Linked DNA regions of Homo sapiens: region 2 is linked to region 1. Evidence: fine-mapped QTL for protein levels in blood plasma. A gene starts in region 1. The other region holds a variant in brackets. All regions are shown on one strand. Distances are between the middles of the regions. Region 1 holds the start of TEK (TEK receptor tyrosine kinase). Region 2 overlaps TEK (TEK receptor tyrosine kinase).

Region 1 (5,386 bases):
TCACTTAACATAATGACCTCCAGTTCCATCCATGTTGTTGCAAATGACAGGATGTTATTCTTTTTTATGGCCGAATAGTACTCTGCTGTGTAGATGTTCCACATTTTCTTTATCCATTCATCTATTGATGGACACTTACGTTGCTTCCATATCTTAGGTATTGTAAACAGTGGTGCAGCAAATATGGGAGTGTAAATGTATTTTTGATGTACTTATTTCCTTTCTTTGGTGTGTATACCCAGCAGTGGGATTGCTGGGTCATATGGTAGCCTGGATTCTGTTTCTTATTTGCCAGTGGATGTTTTAAAGTATACATCCTATTGCCCTGGGTCAACTTTCTCAAGGACGTCCCCTCAGTCTTCTTCATTTTTACATATATGTTCGTTATTTCTAAAAGTGTTAAAATTATAGAAAAGTATAAAAAAGAAAATAAAAATTATGTTTTCCAACAACTCAGAAATAGTCACTTTCAACGCTTTGATATTTATTTGTTGTATATCTGTGGTGTGTATTTCAGTGTGTATAAATTTCATTCTGTTTAAATTGTGTTTTTTTCCCAATCAACAGTATACCATAAACATTTTCACATCTTTTTATGTCAATCTGATTTCACCATAGTATTTGAACACTTGTCTGGAACTTCATTGTATACCATGATTTTTAATAAATAATCCATTTTTGTTGACCATTTTGATTATTTCTAGGCTTTGATTATTATCAACTATGCTTCTATAATGTCCTTATACACAAATTTGGGGGCACATATTTGATTTTGGCTTGGTGTATATCATAAAAATGGATTTTCTGGTGGGGCGCAGTGGCTTACACCTGTAATCCCAGCACTTTGGGAGGCCAAGGGGGGGGGGGGGTGGATCATGAGGTTAGGAGTTCAAGACCATCCTGGCCAATATGGTGAAACCCCATCTCTACTAAAAAGTATAAAAATTAGCCGGGTGTGGTGGTGCACGCCTGTAATTCCAGCTACTCAGGAGGCTGAGGCAGGAGAATCGCTTGAACCCAGGAGGCGGACGTTGCAGTGAGCCGAGATAGTGCCACTGCACTCCAGCCTGGGCGACAGAGTGAGACTCTATTTCAAAAAAAAAAAAAACTGGATTTTCTGGGCCAAAGGGTATGCATACAAGGCTTTTGCTTTGTGTTTGTGATGTTGACCTCTTGACATGTGATACCAGTGTATAGTAGTATTATGTAAGTTATTTTCCACCTCTTTCAGAAAAACCGTTTTGTTATCTATTGATACCTTTGTTAATTAGTCTCAAAGACTTTTAATGTTGTCTATAGTGTTTTTCATGTATTGAGTGCAAAAAGCAGGAAATAGAAAATGAAGAATCAGCCAAGAGCCTTGTTTGTTTGTTTAGTTTGGTTTGGTTTTCTTTATGCTTTTACTGTAGGTATGTCTGGAAAAATCAAATTAAATGGAATGAGCTTGACTCATGAGGAGGCCCCTTTCATTTTCCTGAAGTGAATTAATACAGCACCCACCGATCCTGACATTAGTTATTTCAGAAGCACACTAAGAACTGACCGCACTTCTCAGTGTCACCAAACTATTCTTATCTGTCAAAGTTTCATTTCAAATACTTCTGTAAGGTCTAGGTGTACCCTGCTGGTGTTTGTGATGTCCTACATTACTCTTGATCTACTTTTCAACTATGAAACAAGGGAAAAATTGGAGGTCCAGAGCTCAGGATTCAGATATTATTACCTCTGCTACTCACAGCAGAGCAAGTAACTTAGCCTGTGTGGAACTTCATTTTTCTTTCTTTTTTTTCTTTTTTTTTTTTTTTTTTTTAGACAGAGTCTTGCTCTGTCACCCAGGCTGGAGTGCAGTGGCACGATCTCGGCTCACTGCAACCTCTGCCTCCCAGGTTCAAACAATTCTCCTGCCTCAGCCTCCAGAGTAGCTGGGGTTACAGGTGCACGCCAGCAAGCACAGCTAAATTTTGTATTTTTAGTAGAGATGGGGTTTTGCCATGTTGGCCAGGCTGGTCTCAAACTCCTGACCTCAGGTGATCCACTCCCAAAGTGCTGGGATTATAGGCGTGAGCCACTGTGCCAGGCCCACTGTTTTTGTTTTTTTTTTTCGTGATGACAAATTTAAAGTCATCTCATAGGAATAGAAAATAGCTTTTTAGTAGAAGCTCTTGGAATTTAAATTGAGACTGAATGGAAAGATGAAAGAAAATAAACTTATTAACATTTAATGAGAACCTTCAAAGAACTAGGCATAGTACCAAATGGTTTTATATTTTTAAACCTCATTTATTCCTCTCAAAACACCTGGGAAGGAGATATTTTTGCCATTTCACAGCTGTTGAAACTGAGGCTCAAAAAGACTAAGTAACTTTTCTCAGCTACACATGTGGCTGAGCCAGTATTTGAACCCAGTTCTGTTTGCAGACAGAACCTGGGCTTTTTCACACCTGCAAACTGGAAACATTAATTGGTTCTTAAGATCATCATCGATGTGATAAAACCTGGGACAGAAATTAGTCAAGACTAGCTGCATCTGCCTTTTCCTCTGGTGGGTAGGAAAAGGAGGAGTATAATGATTTCCTCAGGCATGAAGGTCGATGATGAGCAAAGTGTATACTCTCTAATCTAATGTCATAATTCATATTGTGGAGTAATTATCTGGATAAGTGTAGGGTCTCTGACCTCATTCTAGATATTGTACATTCCATGGCTATTTTCATTTTGGTCCATGAACTCTCTTTGCTCTCATGAGCACCATTTTTATCCCAATCTAATCCTGTATGTTTGTGTTTTTACACAGATTAGTTTTTAAATGTTATATATAATTTGCTTCTGAAACACCATTGCTCAATGACTACCAAATCTTTCTCATTACCAAAATCCTTCTATGCCAACTTCTTCAAGAAATTTGATCACCTTTAGATGAATTGTTAATGAAAATTAAAGCTATAGCCGGCAACATGGGTATCTTTGGGCTAATGGCCAACCAACAGGCCATCTGTGTGAAAGAAAACAGGCTAACAATTTTGGACTCTGGTCTCTTGGGGCTACATTGAGCATTGACCTCACCGGTGCTCACTGAAATTAATTGCTTTTCAGGTTGTATTTTCTCATCACGGAAACCTTCTTCTCCCAATTCAAACCATGTGGGTTAAAATGAGAAAACAAAAGCCAAAACGGCTTCCCACACCCAAAAGCTCCTTCTGTCAGAGATCCCAGTAGCCCCGGGAGAGCTGTTAGAAGTCTGAGAAGGATTGGTCATCATCGCATACCATACATAGGTGGAGGGCTTGTTATTCTCAGTTTCCCGCCTATGAGAGGATACCCCTATTGTTTCTGAAAATGCTGACCGGGACCCACACTTCCAACAAAAATTCCTCTGCCCCTACAGCAGCAGCAAAAGCAGCAGCAGAAGCAACAGCAACAGATAAGTGTTTTGATGAATTGCGAGATGGATAGGGCTTGAGTGCCCCCAGCCCTGCTGATACCAAATGCCTTTAAGATACAGCCTTTCCCATCCTAATCTACAAAGGAAACAGGAAAAAGGAACTTAAAACTCCCTGTGCTCAGACAGAAATGAGACTGTTACAGCCTGCTTCTGTGCTGTTCCTTCTTGCCTCTAACTTGTAAACAAGACGTAGTAGGACGATGCTAATGGAAAGTCACAAACCGCTGGGTTTTTGAAAGGATCCTTGGGACCTCATGCACATTTGTGGAAACTGGATGGAGAGATTTGGGGAAGCATGGACTCTTTAGCCAGCTTAGTTCTCTGTGGAGTCAGCTTGCTCCTTTCTGGTAAGGTTTGGCTTTATTTTTTTTAATTTAGTATTTTAAAAAACAGAGTTAGTGATTTCTGGGTGCTCTCCCCAAATCTCATCAGTGCTGATGAACAAGGGGTGGCTGTAGCAAAGGCACCATTTCTCTGTGAGTCTCCAGTCAATATGTGTGGAAGGATTGAAATGCAAAGGCTCTGTGGCATGAACTGATTTTGCTAGTTTGTCTTCTGGGTGATTGGCCCCTGTGTTAGAAACTCTTTGAGGACCGATTAAATCATCTTATTTGAAGAGATCCCCTTACTATCATGCATTATTTTCCTGCTCCTCATTCTGGAGTGTTTTTCTTATTGATTTTTTTTTTAAAGAACAAACCGGTTTTACCTGCTTTAAAGAAAATCTTCAGTAAAAAATGAAATTCATGCTGAGAAATACAGGGGCCCAATTAAGGCAGTGTATAGATTGTCACTGTTAAAAGGGAACAAAGATGCTTTTCTGTAAAAAGATTTTATATCTACATCCTATTTTAAGCAAAGCAATGAAATTGTAGGCTTTTTTTTTTTTCTTGTAGTTAGGGTCAGGGAGATTGGGGCTATTAGAATTTTTGTTTTATTTTAAAAAATGTTTGCCATGTAGTAATTCATAAAGGGTTTACTGGCCCAATGAAACAAAAATTTAGGCAGTTACCAAAATCTTTAACACAGGAGAGTATATGAAGCCTGTTGTAGAGTGAAGGAGTGGTTGGCCAGTGTGTTGGGTTCAGCGTGTTTATTGCTTAGATACTCCAGATAGTGGTGTGCCTCTGTAGCTCACTCAGCCTATGTGACATAGGTAGAAGGCAGTATCCAAACCTGAACTACATATCACAAATACATTTATCATTGCCATCAGTCTCTCCCCTTCGGTTTGAAAACATTCTAATTTTAATAACGAAAATCGAATTGATATTGGAGATGAATTTGGGAAAATTCACTAAACTTCATGGATATAGGGCATATTAATATAATTTGATTCGAGTATACATAAGTATCTGCTATATTTTCTAGGTGTTTGAACTATTTTATTAAATATTCAAAAAACAAATCCAATGAAATAACTGAGTTGAATACAGTTTGTTTTATAGCTCTCAACAACCAATATTTTGAGAATTTAATAATATTCTTTAAGAATGTGTAACACAAGTTGCTAAAAATTAAAAGATTTTAGGTGGCTTCAGTATTTATGTGGAAATTGTTTAAATAATGTTGACTTCTCCAATAATATGTACTTCAAATAATTATCATGATTCCATTTTTGATTTTTTTTTTTCTGAGTGCCATTATTTACCAGTGACATGAAATCTGGAACTTACTCTATACCAGGGATTATAGTGATGTGAAGCCCAGGTGTCTATAGTTTCTCTGAGGTACTTTGTAGGTTAATACACACACAACTGTTTTCATTCACTTTTTTTACTCCTAAAGCAACTGTGTTATAGCACTTTGCAATACAGGCTTAGAAGAATTGTCATAAAATCAAACAAAAAGGTATGTAGCCAAAATACTTGTTCCATGTCTAGACCTCAGATCCCTGGAAAAAACAGCACTGCCTTTAAAAGGCAGAGGACCAAGGAGAGGAAG
Region 2 (5,386 bases), 74 kb after region 1:
AGAAAGTTGGCATGATAGGAGCTCATTCAACTTTTTTTGGAAGCATAACTCCCCAGCTTTTTAAGTTCCTGGTAATTCAGATAAATTACCCCCTACCTTACACAAATCAGCAAAGTTGATGGCTTAGAGAGAAAAATAAAACTAAACACCTGCAGTCTTAGTTTCCTCTCTTCCCCTGGATTAATACTGGTTTTTTGATGTCTCTGTTTACAGCATGCCACCCTGGTTTTTACGGGCCAGATTGTAAGCTTAGGTGCAGCTGCAACAATGGGGAGATGTGTGATCGCTTCCAAGGATGTCTCTGCTCTCCAGGATGGCAGGGGCTCCAGTGTGAGAGAGAAGGTAAAGCAAGGTAACACTGTAGTCAGGGCCATGTTCAGCATGTCTGAACTGAGCTTTGGTAGTGTAATTCTTGTGCCGGCATTCTAAGATCCTCAAGCCTCTTTTGTTTCCATCCAGAAGTTGGGAATAGTTTATCCTAAATCCTAAAGCACAGCATTTTAATTCTGCTCTACTGACCCTAATAGTAGGCTTTATTTGTCTTTGCACTAGGCATAAACCACGTGCTCTTTGTAGCAGCTTAAGTGATGACTGGCCAGCTGAGAGCTCTCCTACCTTTTCTGCTCCCTTCTCTAGGACCAACCTTTTCCCTGGACATGCGTAACAGAGAAAGAGCAATTTGGGATGGATTTAGACAGGGGATATTTTTAAAGCAATAGAAAGAATAAAACAAATAGAAAAGATTATGCTCAAAATGAAATTTTATGTCATTCTAGTTCAGAAGTTACTCTTCAGCAGGAGTCAGCAAACTTTAACCCACAGACTAAATCCAGCCCACTATCTTTTTTTAAACAGCTTTATAGAGATACATTTTTTATATTATAATGTTCAACTTTTTAAAATGTAAATTCAGTGGTTTTTAGTATATTTACAGAGCTATGCCATCATTGCCATAATCTAATTTTACAACATATTCATCATACCAAAACAAACCTTGTACCCATTAATAGAAACTTCCATTTTCCAATCATCCTAATTTCTGACAACCATTTATTTGCAGTTGACCTTAAACAACATGGGGGCTAGGGGTACTGACCCTTCTCGCAGTAGAAAATCTACATATAATTTTTGACTCTCCAAAGACTTAACTACTAATAGCCTTCTGTTGACGAGAAGCCTTACCAATAACATAGTCAATTAACACAGAGACTAGTATCTGTATATATTTTATGCCTTCATGACATACCTTTTTCTTAATTTTTTTGGTATTTCTAGGCTACACAGTTTGTCTGTGAGTTTTTTCAAATTATCCTAAATCTCCAAAAAATTTTCCAATATATTTATTGAAAAAAATCCACATGTCAGTGGACCCATGCAGTTGAAGCCTGTATTGTTCAAGGGTCAACCATATCTTCTGTCTCTGTAGATTGCCTGTTCTTGACATTTTATATGCTGTAAACAAGATTGTATAATACGTCGTCATTTGTGACTAGCTTCATTTGCCACACCTTTTTTGAGGTTTATCTATGTTGTGGCATGTATCAGTACTTCATTCCTTTTTTATTTCTCACCATCTGTTATTATAAAGAAAAAAATTTTGGATCACAGCCACCTCCATTCATTTATAGTATGTCGTCTGTGGCTGCTTTTGTACTACAAGGGCAGAAAACATGGCTTGCAAAGCTGACTGTATTTGCTCTCTTTACAGAAAATGTTTGCTATCCACTGTCGTAGAATATACTTTTTAAAATTAAAAGAAGCAGACATATGTATTTTCAAACTTAATAAATATGTATTGCTTTTTCAATCATATAAATATAAATGCCATTGAAATAAATACATATCCAGTGAAATCTACACTCACAATAATACAGCTATGGCCTTTTTTTCTGTTACTTTTGGAAATCAGAACAAATATTGGGAGTGGGGGTGGGATGCCAGTAAGTGTTTTCTCAAAGTCCTTAAACTTTATATTTTTTCTTCTTTTGCCAAGCCTGGACTTTACTACAGGGCAGGAATCAGGGAGTGGTTAGAAAGGGAAGGAAATGCCATGGGGCTACTAGGGGATTGTATTGAACGTGGGCAGCTAACAAGTTTAAGGATTTGAATTTTGTGCTTTGTTCCTTCCCGTCTGTTCCCTTCTGCTGATGCTGCAAAAGGAGTGCATTCTGATGGGAGAATCTAAGACAGGTTAACCAGGGTGTCACTAGGGCTTTCAGAGAGTAGCTCCCTTCCCAGATTCCACTTTAGCCCAGCACATCCACCTTCACCCCCACCCAGCTTCAGAAAATACAAGGGGACGATGAAGGAAAGAAATGCTTTAAAAGTGTCAAAACATGTTTTTCAATTCCTATTCAAATAGCTACTTAGGCTGAAAAACTTGGCACGTTTTCCATAATCTTTCCAAGTTTACAGATATATCAAGGAATAACCTTGTAAGTATTAGACCTCTTTCCCTTCTCCTCCACACCTTTACCCATTTCATTCTAGGCCTGAGAAGTAGGATATCAGTATAAAATATCATTATTGACCCCGCCTCTTCCCACCACCGATAAGAAACAGTCTGTAGTTACTGCTGCTCTGAGGGCACCTCTATCGCCTACATTGTTTACTGAGTGTTGGACAATTTTCAAACATGTCTCACATTCAATTACAAATAGTCCACAGTTCCCTGAGTCCCTATGGTTCAGAATAAAATTGGTATATTTCAGGGTTATTCATTCTCTACTGTGTAGATGTTAGGCAAGAAATCCTGACACCATTACCTTTATTGACACTACAGACATTTTTCCTTCTTTCAATATTGGCAGCAACATTTTTGATTTGGCTGTTGAGTGGATACTGATTTGGGGAAGTTATATTTCACTTCTTTGATGTACTTCTTTTGTGAGCAACTTTATTCACCTTTTCCTCTTAGTTATCTGCTATTTGCAGACTTCCCAATGAATGAGACATCTCTCGTATATCTAAACTGAGGTCAATGCTGTTGAACAGCAATACCATGGGGTTATTTGATGAGTGGAGGAAGAACTAGTTTTTTGTTTGTTGTATTTTTGTAATCATTCATGTAAAAAGAAAGAGGGGGATTGAACAGCAAAGTCTAGGGGAGATATGGCCATGATAATCATTTTAATATTGAGACTGTTCCTCCCTGGTCCATGAAAGGAGCACAGCCTCATGGCAAAGAGCGTGGACTCTGGATTTATAAAGATCTGAGTCTGAATCTGGGCTGTGAGCCTCTGTCTCCTCATCCATAAAATGGGAGACCACAATATCATCCACATCACAGGTGTCTTATGTGATGACAAAACAGTAAAATATTTGCAAAGTTCTTGCCCGGTGCATGACTTACTAAAGTAGCTATTTTTATTATTACTACTGCTGCTGGCTCTGTTAAATATTAGATTTCACAGTGCTGTTTTCTTCCTTCAGGCATAC[A/C]GAGGATGACCCCAAAGATAGTGGATTTGCCAGATCATATAGAAGTAAACAGTGGTAAATTTAATCCCATTTGCAAAGCTTCTGGCTGGCCGCTACCTACTAATGAAGAAATGACCCTGGTGAAGCCGGATGGGACAGTGCTCCATGTAAGAGCCATTCTTAATTTGCCCTTCTTAAAGCATGAGATGCTTCAGTGTAGTAATCACCCCACTAAATGATAGATACCATTCAGTGCTTTTATCCTCCTAGGCTAGTGTGTTGTTGGCTTTGATAAAATGCCCTATTCCTGGAGAGGCAGAACTGACTCACTGCAGCCTCACTGATTTCTTCTGTTGGCCAGTACTGCTCTGCATGGTTGGGAATATGCCTCCTGGGGAACTGACAGAGCTGGGTGCCAAGGATGGCACACATCCTGCAGGACTGTCCAGCTGGTATGGGGAGAAGTACGTGTCAATCTGTGCAAAGCTTTGCTCTCGCAGTGTCCCCATATCTCTAACTACTCATATCAGGAGAGTAAGGTGGTGTTGCAACCCATGAATCAGCAGATTTACGTGCTACCAAGTGCAACCAGGACATGGAGTTTTGATGACCGGTCCACTCCTATTACGCTCTTTGGAGCAGCAGTTTAGGGGAGCATAGAAGAGGAGAGTTCCCCAGTTCTGAAACTACAATCCACGGGATCCCTTAGGTCTGAATGCATTCATTGGGTTTCTACCCACCTCTTCCCTTTGCCTTCATTGCTGATGCTCACCCATGGTCAGGTAATATCACAGCAGTTATTTTTTGTTTAAAAGGATCAAGCTACTTTTCGAACATGCTTTCCTTCTCTCTCCCAACTATACCAAATGCAGCAGAGACAGGAGCCACCCCAAATTTCTCTTGTGTTGAAAGTGATCCTTAGGATATTGATGTATTTTTTAATCTAAAAATTTAGAAATACTTATTATCCTATTTTTCTATCAAAGATGACCAAAATCAGCTTGACCAGAGGCAGGTATGAGTGACCTTCTGAGGGAGGAATATGTAGAATGTACCATTACTAGGGTCCACGTTTCAATGTCCCTGATTCCACTCAAACAACCCATCAGGTAGAAGAAGCCAATTGATGGCTTCCAAAATCTTATTGGCTTTTTCATGAGTTAATGAAAGTAATGGCTACTATTTAGTAAGGTTGGCCATAACTATATGTAACTTCTTACTTAACATTGCCTAGTGTCTCTTTTTTTTGGCGGAAGTGGGAACTGGCTGGGTGAAGTTAAGTAACTAAGGAATTGGTCAAAAATGGCAAAGAGGCCAGATACGGTGACTCATGCCTGCAATCCCAGTGCTTTGGAAGCCTGAGGTGGGAGGATCACTTTAGGCCAGAAATTTGAGACCGGCCTGGGCAACATAGCAAGACCCCATCTCTTAAAAAATAAAAAAAGAATTAGCTGGACATGGTGGCATATACCTGTAGTCCCAGCTACTTGGGTGAGGTGGGGGGATCACTTAAGGCCAGGAGTTTGAGGCTGCAGTGAACTATGATCACTCAACTGCACTCCAGCCTGAGCCAAGGAACAAGACTTTGTTGTCTCTCAAAAAAAAAAAAATGGCAGAGGTCCATCTCTCTTCAGAACCCTGGATTTTTCCAGTACTCCCCACTTGACAGCCTCTCAAACACTTAGGAAGTCACTTTGTCCTCCCACGCAGCCATCTCTGTGTTAGATAGGAAAGGAACAAATCTTATGAGGAGGAGTTTAAAAGAAATCATGCTTCAGGTGTCTTGCTTGTAAGTGTTTACCCCGTACTCCTAAACACACAAATACAACAGCAGGATCTGACAGGGCATCAATCCAAAATAAACTTTCAGGGCTACTACAATAGCTTTGGAAATAAGCCAATAATTATATTAGCATTACATTTAGCTTCTTGATCTCTCCTAGGAAACTTCTTATTAAACAATGAGATG

Evidence for each region. PIP is the posterior inclusion probability: the model's chance that the variant is causal. Protein levels are from the aptamer-based SomaScan assay of Sun 2018.
Region 2: its variant is fine-mapped to the plasma level of the TEK protein (Sun 2018, PIP 0.95). The variant lies in the coding sequence of TEK. If it changes the protein, the assay may bind it differently, which can mimic a change of level.

What each region holds. Positions count from the first base shown.
Region 1 is chr9:27,105,854-27,111,239 of GRCh38, forward strand. TEK (TEK receptor tyrosine kinase) reads left to right here and starts at 3,372. Exons shown (of 23, transcript NM_000459.5): 1 at 3,372-3,789. The coding sequence starts at 3,738. LOC124902134 (a long non-coding RNA gene) reads left to right here. Exons shown (of 2, transcript XR_007061440.1): 2 at 1-688.
Region 2 is chr9:27,180,027-27,185,412 of GRCh38, forward strand. It overlaps TEK (TEK receptor tyrosine kinase), which reads left to right. Exons shown (of 23, transcript NM_000459.5): 7 at 214-342; 8 at 3,433-3,584. Among named protein-coding and RNA genes, the nearest start is that of TEK, 73 kb to the left of the region's middle. The variant A/C (reference allele first, on the strand shown) is at 3,439.